2 separate regions of the Homo sapiens genome follow, and region 1 is linked to region 2. Evidence: fine-mapped expression QTL. A gene starts in region 2. The other region holds a variant in brackets. All regions are shown on one strand. Distances are from middle to middle.

What was found. PIP is the estimated chance that this variant, and not a neighbour inherited with it, causes the effect. A credible set is the group of variants that fine-mapping cannot tell apart.
Region 1: its variant is the best candidate, but not a certain one, in a credible set for the expression of PAFAH1B2 in whole blood (TOPMed, PIP 0.75).

What each region holds. Positions count from the first base shown.
Region 1 is chr11:117,161,444-117,166,443 of GRCh38, reverse strand. PAFAH1B2 (platelet activating factor acetylhydrolase 1b catalytic subunit 2) reads right to left here. Exons shown (of 6, transcript NM_002572.4): 5 at 2,552-2,674. Among named protein-coding and RNA genes, the nearest start is that of SIDT2, 15 kb to the left of the region's middle. The variant A/G (reference allele first, on the strand shown) is at 1,927.
Region 2 is chr11:117,140,932-117,146,445 of GRCh38, reverse strand. PAFAH1B2 (platelet activating factor acetylhydrolase 1b catalytic subunit 2) reads right to left here and starts at 2,159. Exons shown (of 6, transcript NM_002572.4): 1 at 2,028-2,159. RefSeq lists an enhancer at 900-1,079 and a silencer at 1,630-1,949.

The DNA.
Region 1 (5,000 bases), 20 kb before region 2:
AAAGTTTTAGTATTATGGACAACACCATAATTAACACTTTTGTATATCCAATTTAAAAACAAAGAATATGGAAGGCTTATTGAGCAACATTCATACAACAAATATTTCCTAAGCAAATACTATGTACTAGTCACTGTACTTAACAGGTGGACTCTTAACACAATCCTTTCTGGAATAAGGCAGGTATAAATAAGTACCTCAACAAGTAAATGAAATGCCTTGTAATAAAAAAGATCTGGCCCCCCAGCAACTGTGGATAAAATCCAAACATCCCAACAGCATATGAATTCCTACATGACCTGGTCTGGCGCAGTGGCTCACGCCTGTAATCCCAGCACTTTGGGAGGATGAGGCGGGCAGATCACGAACGAGGTCAGGAGTTCGAGACCAGCCTGGCCAATATGGTGAAACCCCGTTTCTACTAAAAACAAACAAAAATTAGCCGGGCATGGTGGCATGCACCTGTAGTTCCAGCTACTTGGGATTTGAGGCAGAAGAATCACTTGAACCCGGGAGGCGGAGGTTGCAGTGAGCTAAGATCACGCCACTGCACTCCAGCCTGGGCAGTAGAGCGAGACTCCATCTCAAATTAAAAAAAAAAAAAAAAAATCCTACATGACCTGGTTGTGGCCTCCTTCTCCTAACCATCCCAGGCTCAAACTTTATGCAGCCTCCTCTGCTCACCCAACAAACACATACATGTACAAGCCTTTGCTCAATTCTCTTTATTTTTCTATAATACCTTCCTTCTTTCCCTATTTGTCTGGAAACCAATGAAGTCTTTGAATGCAGATGTCAACTTTTGTTAAACACGTTTTCACCTTACTCTAAACAGCACACAGTATAATAATTCTGTGTTGCTGTCTCCATACACTAGACTGTGAGCTCCTTGAGACCGAAACTATGTCTTACTCATTTTTGTATGCTCAAGAACTAGGATAGTGCCTTGTACACAGTGATCCTCAGGTTTTTTGAGTAAATGACTATCTTCCTAACACCATCTCACTAAAGAACTAAATTTGTATCAGATTTTGCTAAAACATGTTTCAAACTGACTAAGAATATCTACAGCTAGACATTTTTTTTTTTTTTTTGAGACCGAGTTTTGCTCTGTTGCCCAGGCTGGAGTGCAGTGGCACGATCTCGGCTCACTGCAACCTCCACCTCCCAGGTTTAAGAAATTCTCTGCTTCAGCCAGGCGTGATGGCTCACGTCTGTAATCGCAGCACTTTGGGAGGCCAAGGCAGGCAGATCACGAGGTCAGGAGATCGAGACCATGGCTAACACGGTGAAACCCCATCTCTACTAAAAATACAAAAAATTAGCCGGGTGTGGTGGCGGGCGCCTGTAGTCCCAGCTACTCGGGAGGCTGAGGCAGGAGAATGGTGTGAACCTGGGAGGCCGAGCTTGCAGTGAGCCGAGATCATGCCACTGCACTCCAGCCTAGGCGACAGAGCGAGACTCTGTCTCAAAAAAAAAAAAAAAGAAAAAAGAAATTATCTGTTTCAGCCTCCCGAATAGCTGGGATTACAGGCACGTGCCACCACGCCCAGCTAATTTTTTTGTATTTTTAGTAGAGACGAAGTTTCACCATCTTGGCCAGGCTGGTCTTGAAATCCTGACCTTGTGATCCACCCGCCTCGGCCTCCCAAAGTGCTGGGATTACAGACGTGAGCCACCACACCCGGCCTACAGCTAGACTTTTATACTGAAACAGACAGCTGTTCACCTTTGAGACCATGAAGAGTTAATGCTTTAATTCTACAAAAGGGTAGCACCTTTCTGTTCAGGGTACAACTATAAAGTATCCATTTTCTTGCTGATGAAATTTTTTATGTTTTAGAGAAGATTAGAATGTCTAATATACCACCTTTAACATATTAGCAGTAAAACAGGACACTTACAAAGTAATCCAAATATAGGTCT[A/G]ATAAAAAGACTCAGGATTCAGACAAATCTCATGTGCCATTGTGCAAAAAATTATGGAGGCCAAAAAAAGGAGTACTGAGGCACCAAACGGCTTCCATACTTTTTTTTTTTGAGACGGAGTCTCGCTCTGTCACCCAGGCTGGAGTGCAGTGGCACAATCTCTGCTCACTGTAAGCTCTGCCTCCCAAGTTCACGCCATTCTCCTGCCTCGGCCTCCCGAGTAGCTGGGACTACAGGCGCCTGCCACCACACCCGGCTAATTTTTTGTATTTTTATTAGAGACAGGGTTTCACCGTGTTAGCCAGGATGGACTTGATCTCCTGACCTCGTGATCCGCCCACCTTGGCCTCCCAAAGTGCTGGGATTACAGGCGTGAGCCACAGCGCCTGGCCACGGCTTCCATACTTCTAAACAAGGATGCGTGGATAAAAGATGGCCCCACAGCTGGTATGGGGAATGATGAAACCAGTAAGACAGTAAAATACATTAAAGAAGAGGTCAACGAAAGTATGATAAACTGCTTCCACCTCAAGGTTCTCTAATATTCATGAGCAATCACATTTCTAAAAAGATTCCTCAGCTGACCTAAAGATAACAAACTCTCTACCCACCAACGACTACATACCAATACAATGATTTTGGCCTGTGGCTGCCTTGTGTTGATAAGTTGTACAATGGCCTCGATCCCACCTGCTACTTCTTCTGCTGTATTTTCGTGGTTATTTGTTCCTACCCAGACAACAATGACCTGCAATTGAAGAAAAAAGGGGGGAAGGAGAAGATAAATACCCAGGAACAAAGGAACGTCCAACATTTAGATGAAAATCTTTTTTTTTTTTTTTTTTGAGATGGGGTCTCGCTCTATCACCCAGACTGGAGTGCAGTGGCACCATTTCGGCTCACTGCAACCTCCGCCTCCCAGGTTCAAGTGATTCTCCTGCCTCAGCCTCCCGAGTAGCTGGGACTACAGGCATGTGCCGCCACGCCCAGCTAATTTTTGTATTTTTAGTAGAGACCAGGGTTTCACCACGTTGCCCAGGCTGGTCTCAAACTCCTGACCTCAGGTAATCCACCCACCTTGGCATCCCAAAGTGCTGGGATTACAGGTGTGAGCCACCACGCCCGGCCGAAAATCTTATTTCAAAAAGCAAAGAAGGAAAGATAAACTTTTCAAATGGTGTTGGCTAACTTCAACTGGGCAGCTATCCTATTAAATTTTCTTTTAAGAGATAGAGGGTCATGCTATATTGCCCAGGCTGGTCTTAAACTCCTGGGCTCAATCCATCTTTCTTTGGCCTCCCAAAATGCTGGGACTACAAATGTTGAGCCAGGGCAGAAATCTTAATGCATCGATTTATGCCTCCTATCATATATCAGGATAAATTCCAAGGGGAATAATATTTAAGTGGTAAAATTGTACTAGGAGGAAACAAGAGAGAATTATATCATCATGCAGCAGGAAGCTGATTTCTCAAAATCCAAAAATTATACAAAAAAGATTAATAAACTGTATAAAAATAAAACCTGGCCAGGCACAGTGGGTCACATCTATAATCTCAATGCTTTGGGACACTGAGGTGGGAAGATTGATTCAGCCCAGGAGTTCAAGACTGCAAGTAAGCCATGATCATGCCACTGCACTCCAGCCTGGGTGACACAGCAAGAACCTGTCACGGTATAAATACACAGGTACACTCAAGGAAAAGAGTCACAGAGGTGGAGGCTGGATGCAACTTTAACAAATTTTTCTATTTATTTATTTTTGAAACGGAGTCTTCCTCTGTCACCCAGGCTGGAGTGCAGTGGTGTGATCCTGGCTCACTGCAACCTCCATCTCATGGGTTCAAGTGATTCTCCTGCCTCAGCTTCCTAAGGTGTGTGACACCATGCCTGGCTTTTTTTTTTTTTTTTTAAATCTAGAGACAGGGTTTCACCATGCTGGCCAGGGTGGTCGTGAACTCCTAGCCTCAAGTGATCTGCGTGCCTCAGCCTCCCAAAGTGCTAGGATTACAGGCATAACCCACCACGCTGATCCATCAAGTTTTTCTCTTTAGAGAAAAAAAAAAAAAATCACAGTCTCGCATGGTAGCTCAAGCCTATAATCCCAGTATTTTAGGAGGCCGGGGCGGGAGGATCATCATCTGAGGCCAGGAGTTTGACACCAGCCTAGGCAACATAACAAGACCAAGACCCTGTCTACAAAAAGAAATTTAAAAATTAGCTAAGCATGGTGGCACATGCCTGCAGTCCTAGCTATTTGGGAGGCTGAGGCCATAGGATCATCCGAGTCCAACAGTTTGAGGTTACAGTGAGCTATAATCATGCCACTGCATTCTAGTTTGGGCAACAGAGAGAACCTGTCTTAAAACAAACAACTTTCAATGAAAGCACGTTTTGTCAGGGCTCAGTTTTTGTTCTTTTTTGGGAGCTGAAACAATTATATACAGTGTGCCAACTCAGAGTATTTATGATATAAGATACTGGGTAGAAATGTTCATTTGTTCACATCTGCTTCTAATTTTCTTCAGATGAACTTGCAGGCCTCGATTACTGACCTGTTTATATGGTTAAACAGATCCAAAATTACTTCCTAAAGTTAATCATGGCCCTGCTCCCATGGCCCACCTCTGAGCAGTTTTCCCTCATACTGCCCGAGATCTATGCATTCCACAGAATAGCATACCTCGTTAGCATCAAATCTCTTCCTTCAGCCAGGCGCGGTGGCTCATGCTTGTAATTCTCCAGCACTTTTGGGAGGCCGAAGCGGGTGGATCACAAGGTCATGAGTTCAAGACCAGCCTGGCCAAGATGGTGAAACCCCATCTCTACCAAAAATACAAAAATTAGCTGGGCACAGTGGCGGCGCCTGTAATCCCAGCTACTCGGGAGGCTGAGGCAGGAGAATCGCTTGAACCCAGGAGGCGGAGGTTGCAGTGAGCTGAGATCACACCACTGCACTCTAGCCTGGGTGACAAAGCAAGACTCCATCTCAAAAAAAAAAAAAACTCTTCCTTCAACTTAAGAAAGTAATTATAACAACTATAAATACAACCCAATAGGCAAACAATTCACTA
Region 2 (5,514 bases):
ACATAAAATAAGAACGAACTAAGAGCTACCCAGTGGTAAGACGCAAACTTCTGAGTGACTTTGGGTTTCCTGCGCCTGTTATCCCAGCACTTTGGGAGGCCGAGGCGGGTGGATCACTTGAGGTCGGGAGTTCAAGACCTGCCTGGCCAACGTGGCGAAACCCCGTCTCTACTAAAAAAAAAAAATACAAAATTAGCTGGGTGTGGTGGCACATGCCTATAAGCTTGAACCGGGAGGCAGAGGTTGTAGTGAGTAGAGATCGCGCCACTGCACTCCAGCCTGGGCGACAGACTGAGACTCCGTCACACACACAAAAAAAAAAAAAAAAAAAGAAAGAAAGACCAAGCAGAATGCAAATAAAAGGTCTGAAGAACAAGTTTTGTTAATTTGCCACAACAGACTGTACTCCAGGGGAAGCTTTGTTGTCCATTAAAGTGAGTTCTCTGGGAAGACGAGGAGTAACCGACTTGCACGATTTTCCTGCCTTTTCTATATTCTCTACTTACTATGACAATACAGCACTAGAATTTCCAAGTGCTTATACCAGCATAGTGCAATGTATTTAATGAGAAACCACGTCCAACAACAAAGCGTTATAACTTCTCCAGCTGAGTTAGATGTTTTAGTCTGAACCAGGAAAACAGATGAAGAAAGTTGAACCAAGAATTAAAAGATTTAGAGTTTCCACTCAGACCTAAGACTCTCCACTTTGTTTCAGAGGGAGTGGGTATGGTTATTCTGAAGAAGAAGGCGGCCCTTATCCTGAATGCCCGGTAGCCTCCGTGGGCTGGTGGGTGGTTCCTCCGGTCCAGCACCTCCATAATTTATGATCAAATGCCCAAGCCAACAAACTAATCCTCCCCTTCTCCCCCACAAGGAGGCAACCTTTATGTCAGAACAATGTGCCCAGAAGAAGCCAAAGACACAAGGCACATCCAAGGCAAAGACAATCTTAATTAAGCACTTTCTCCTTCCACTTTCTCCACACCTTTACCCCCGGCCCAACCCCTTCCCATAATTTCAAGCTGTACAAAATGAGGTCCTAGGGTGGATCCGGGTGGTCTTTCCTTTCTCTACGGGTAAGCTCTACAAAGAGGCGAAAGCTCCGAGTGTTAGTTCTTGTTTGTGTATAAATTCTGAAAAGCAACGCTGGCCTGCGAGCTATGAAAAGCAGAAGCATGAGTCACCACGCAACGGGTCAATCAAACCTGTAGACCAGAAGGCACGGATCTGGCAAACGGACGGTGAGCCAGGAAAAAAACATCCCCCCAAACCTCTCCGCTGACAGGTTTATCTAGCTGGCTGACCTTGGGCAGGTCACCAGCCGCTCCGAGCACATTCATGTCTAAGATGAGATGGGGGCTGGAAAGCCTTCCAAGAAATAATCCCTTCCGAGTGGTGACGGTCTATGCAACTTTTGAATAAACACATCCTAAGAGGCAACGGAGAAGTTTCTAAAGAGTTGAAATTTTTCAACAAAAGGAGGAGGGAAAAGTGCTCGGTAAAAACACAACGGAGTAACTGGTTTTGGCCTCCGACCAGACGCGAGGGGAGAGAAGAGTGAGAAGTTAGACCCCTGTGATAAAGGGAAAAGGCAGCAGCGGAGACCCGGGCAGGAGCTGCAGCGCCCAGCCGGGGCGAGCTGGGGTGCGCAAGGCCTACCGCGGGTGGGCCCGGCAGGGCAGGGCAGGGCAGGGCGGGGCGGGGCGCCCGCCGCGCTACCCTCCTGGGAAAGGCCGTGGAGGCGCCGGCCGGCGGCTGAGGAGAAACGCCAGCTTTCGGTATGGAATATCGGGAAAGGGCTCTCAGAGCGAAAACTAGCTGCGCCGGCTGCTGGGAAGCCGACGCTGGGCCCGCAGAGAAGGCGCGCGCTCGCGAGGCCCCCCCCAAGTGGATGGGGCGGCGTGGGGGGAGGGGCCGCAAGGGTGGGGGAGGGGAGGTCGCGGGCCTCTCACAATAACACCTCGCAGCCCCTTCCGACCCCCGCCTCTAAGCCACCGGTTCCCTGCGACCCTGGATGCACTCACTGAAGTAGAGGGTCCGTGCGGGCCCCAAGCGGCTGAGGCGTCGGCGGGTGGCGCGTCGGTCGCTCGCTCGGTCCCGTCGGTCCCGCTCCGGCGCGTCCCTCCTCCGGCCCCAGCACCAGCAGCAGCTCCTCCACTTCCGGTTCCCCTGCCACTCAGCCAAATGGCTTCCGGAAGTCCCGCCCCCATCCTGCCACGCCTCAGCGTGGTTCCTCTCTCCCCGCCTTCGCTCTCCCGGGCGCTGGCGGCGTGCGCCCAGGTGTCCCGCCACACCCCGTTGGGTACCCTGCTTTGTTCTCGCGGTTACCCCCATTTTGTGTGGCGTCTGAGGGACATGGGCTTCTCTCTTTACTCCAGCTGCATCTCTCAATCCTGCGTTCGTGCCACCGCAGTGTGGAGCTGGCATTCGGGACGATGTGGCGTGAAGTCACACTGACGCCATTCCCTTCACACTCAGCCAACTTGGCTTCCTCTTCCACCCATGGAATAAACCAGACTGCTGAAAGTGGGAGGGAAATAGCGGACCAAGGTTAAGGAGGCAGTACCTGACATTTATTAGTGGAATTTCTGTTTCTATGATGAATGTGGAGATTTTGGGTGACCGCCTGTAAAGGTGATACATAGGGGGATGACGAACCCCAGGCTTTTCCTTAAAAGATACATCCAGTTTAGGGGAAGACATACATATACAAAGTCAATATTGAAAAGATTATATGCTAAATAAATGCAGGATCTATAAAAGTAGAGAGGAGGGGCAAGAGATGTGCTCAAGCTTATAGCAGCGCAACGGTTGCTGGAGCAGTGCCCTGAACTGGCCCTTTAAGGATCTCAGCTCTATGCTGGTGAATAGGCAGAGCCTTCCAGGGCTCTTAAACTGATGCGGGGGTGGGGGTTGATTTTGCTGACAAAACCTGTTAAGAATACTGTAAAATCCTGGGAGCCTAAAATGTCAAGATATGTCAAGTAATTTTTCTTTTTTTTTTTTTTTTTTATTCAAGTTCTAGGGTACATGTGCACAACGTGCAGGTTTGTTACATAGGTATACGTGTGCCATGTTGGTTTGCTGCACCCATCAACTCGTCATTTACATTCCGTATTTCTCCTAATGCTATCCCTCCCCCAGCCCCGCAGTCCCCGACAGGCCCCCGTGTGTGATGTTCCCCGCCCTTTGTCCAAGTGTTCTCAGTGTTCAATTCCCACCTATGAGAACATGCGGTGTTTGGTTTTCTGTCCTTGTGATAGTTTGCTGAGAATGATGGTTTCCAGTTTCGTCCATGTCCCTGCAAAGGATATGAACTCATCCTTTTTACAGCTGCATAGTATTTCGTGGTGTATATGTGCCACATTTTCTTAATCCAGTCTATCATTGATGGACATTTGGGTTGGTTCCAAGTCTTTGCTATTGTGAATAGTGCCACAATAAACATACGTGTGCATGTATCTTTATAGCAGCATGATTTATAATCCTTTGGGTATATACCCAGTAATGGGATGGCTGGGTCAAATGGTATTTCTAGTTCTAGATCCTTGAGGAATCGCCACACTGTCTTTCACAATGGTTGAATTAATTTACACTCCCTCCAACAGTGTAAAAGTGTTCCTCTTTCTCCACATCCTCTCCAGCATCTGTTGTTTCCTGACTTTTTAATGATCGCCATTCTAACTGGCATGAGATGGTATCTCATTGTGGTTTTGATTTGCATTTCTCTGATGACCAGTGATGATGAGCATTTTTTCATGTGTCTGTTGGTTGCATAAATGTCTTCTTTTGAGAAGTGTCTGTTCATATCCTTTGCCCACTTTTTGATGGGGTTGTTTGTTTTTTTTCTTGTAAATTTGTTTAAGTTCTTTGTAGATTCTGGATATTAGCCCTTTGTCAGATGGGTAGATTGCAAAAATTTTCTCCCATTCTGTAGGTTGCCTGTTCGCTCTGATGGTAGTTTCTTTTGCCATGCAGAAGCTCTTTAGTTTAATTATATCCCATTTGTCTATTCTGGCTTTTGTTGCCATTGCTTGTGGTGTTTTAGTCAGGAAGTCTTTGCCCATGCCTATGTCCTGAATGGTATTGCCTATGTTTTCTTCTAGGGTTTTTATGGTTTTAGGTCTAACATTTAAGTCTTTACTCCATCTTGAATTAATTTTTGTATAAGGTGTAAGGAAGGGATCCAGTTTCAGCTTTCTACATATGGCTAGCCAGTTTTCCTGGCACCATTTATTAAATAGGGAATCCTTTCCCCATTTCTTGTTTTTGTCAATTTGTCAAAGAGCAGATGGTTGTAGATGTGTGGTGTTATTTCTGAGGCCTCTGTTCTGTTCTGTTGGTCTATATATCTGTTTTGGTGCTAGTACCATGCCGTTTTGGTTACTGTAGCCTTGTAGTATAGTTTGAAGTCAGGTAGCGTGGTGCCTCCAGCTTTGTTCTTTTTGCTTAGGATTGTCTTGGCAATGCGGGCTCTTTTTTGGTTCCATATGAAGTTTAAAGTAGTTTTTTCCAATTCTGTGAAGAAAGTCTTTGGTAGCTTGATGGGGATGGCATTGAATCTATAAATTACCTTGGGCAGTATGGCCATTTTCACAATACTGATTCTTCCTATCCATGAGCATGGAATGTTCTTCCATTTGTTTGTGTCCTCTTTTATTTCACTGAGCAGTGGTTTGTAGTTCTCCTTGACGAGGTCCTTCACATCCCTTGTAAGTTGGATTCCTAGGTATTTTATTCTCTTTGTAGCAATTGTGAATGGGAGTTCACTCATGATTTGGCTCTCTGTTATTGTCTGTTATTGGTGTATAGGAGTGCTTGTGATTTTTGCACATTGATTTTGTATCCTGAGACTTTGCTGAAGTTGCTTATCAGCTTAAGGAGATCTTGGGCTGAGACAATGGGGTTTTCTAAATATACAATCATGTCATCTGCAAACAGGGAAAATTTGACTTCCTCTTTTCCTAATTGAATACCCTTTATTTCTTTCTCTTGCCTGATTGCCCTGGCCAGAACCTCCAACACTATGTTGAATAGGAGTGGTGAGAGAGGGCATCCTTGTCTTGTGCTGGTTTTCAAAGGGAATGCTTCCCGTTTTTGCCCATTCAGTATGATATTGGCTGTGGGTTTGTCATAAATAGCTCTTACTATTTTGAGATACGTTCCATCAATACCTAGTTTATTGCGAGCTTTTAGCATGAAGGGCTGCTGAATTTTGTCGAAGGCCTTTTCTGCATTGATATAATCATGTGGTTTTTGTCATTGGTTTTGTTTATGTGATGGATTACGTTTATCAATTTGTGTATGTTGAACCAGCCTTGCATCCCAGGGATGAACCCAACTTGATTGTGGTGGATAAGCTTTTTGATGTGCCACTGGATTCGGTTTGCCAGTATTTTATTGAGAATTTTCACATCAATGTTCATCAGGCGTATTGGCCTAAAATTCTCTTTTTTGTTATGTCTCTGCCGGGCATTAGTATCAGGATGATGCTGGCCTCATAAAATGAGT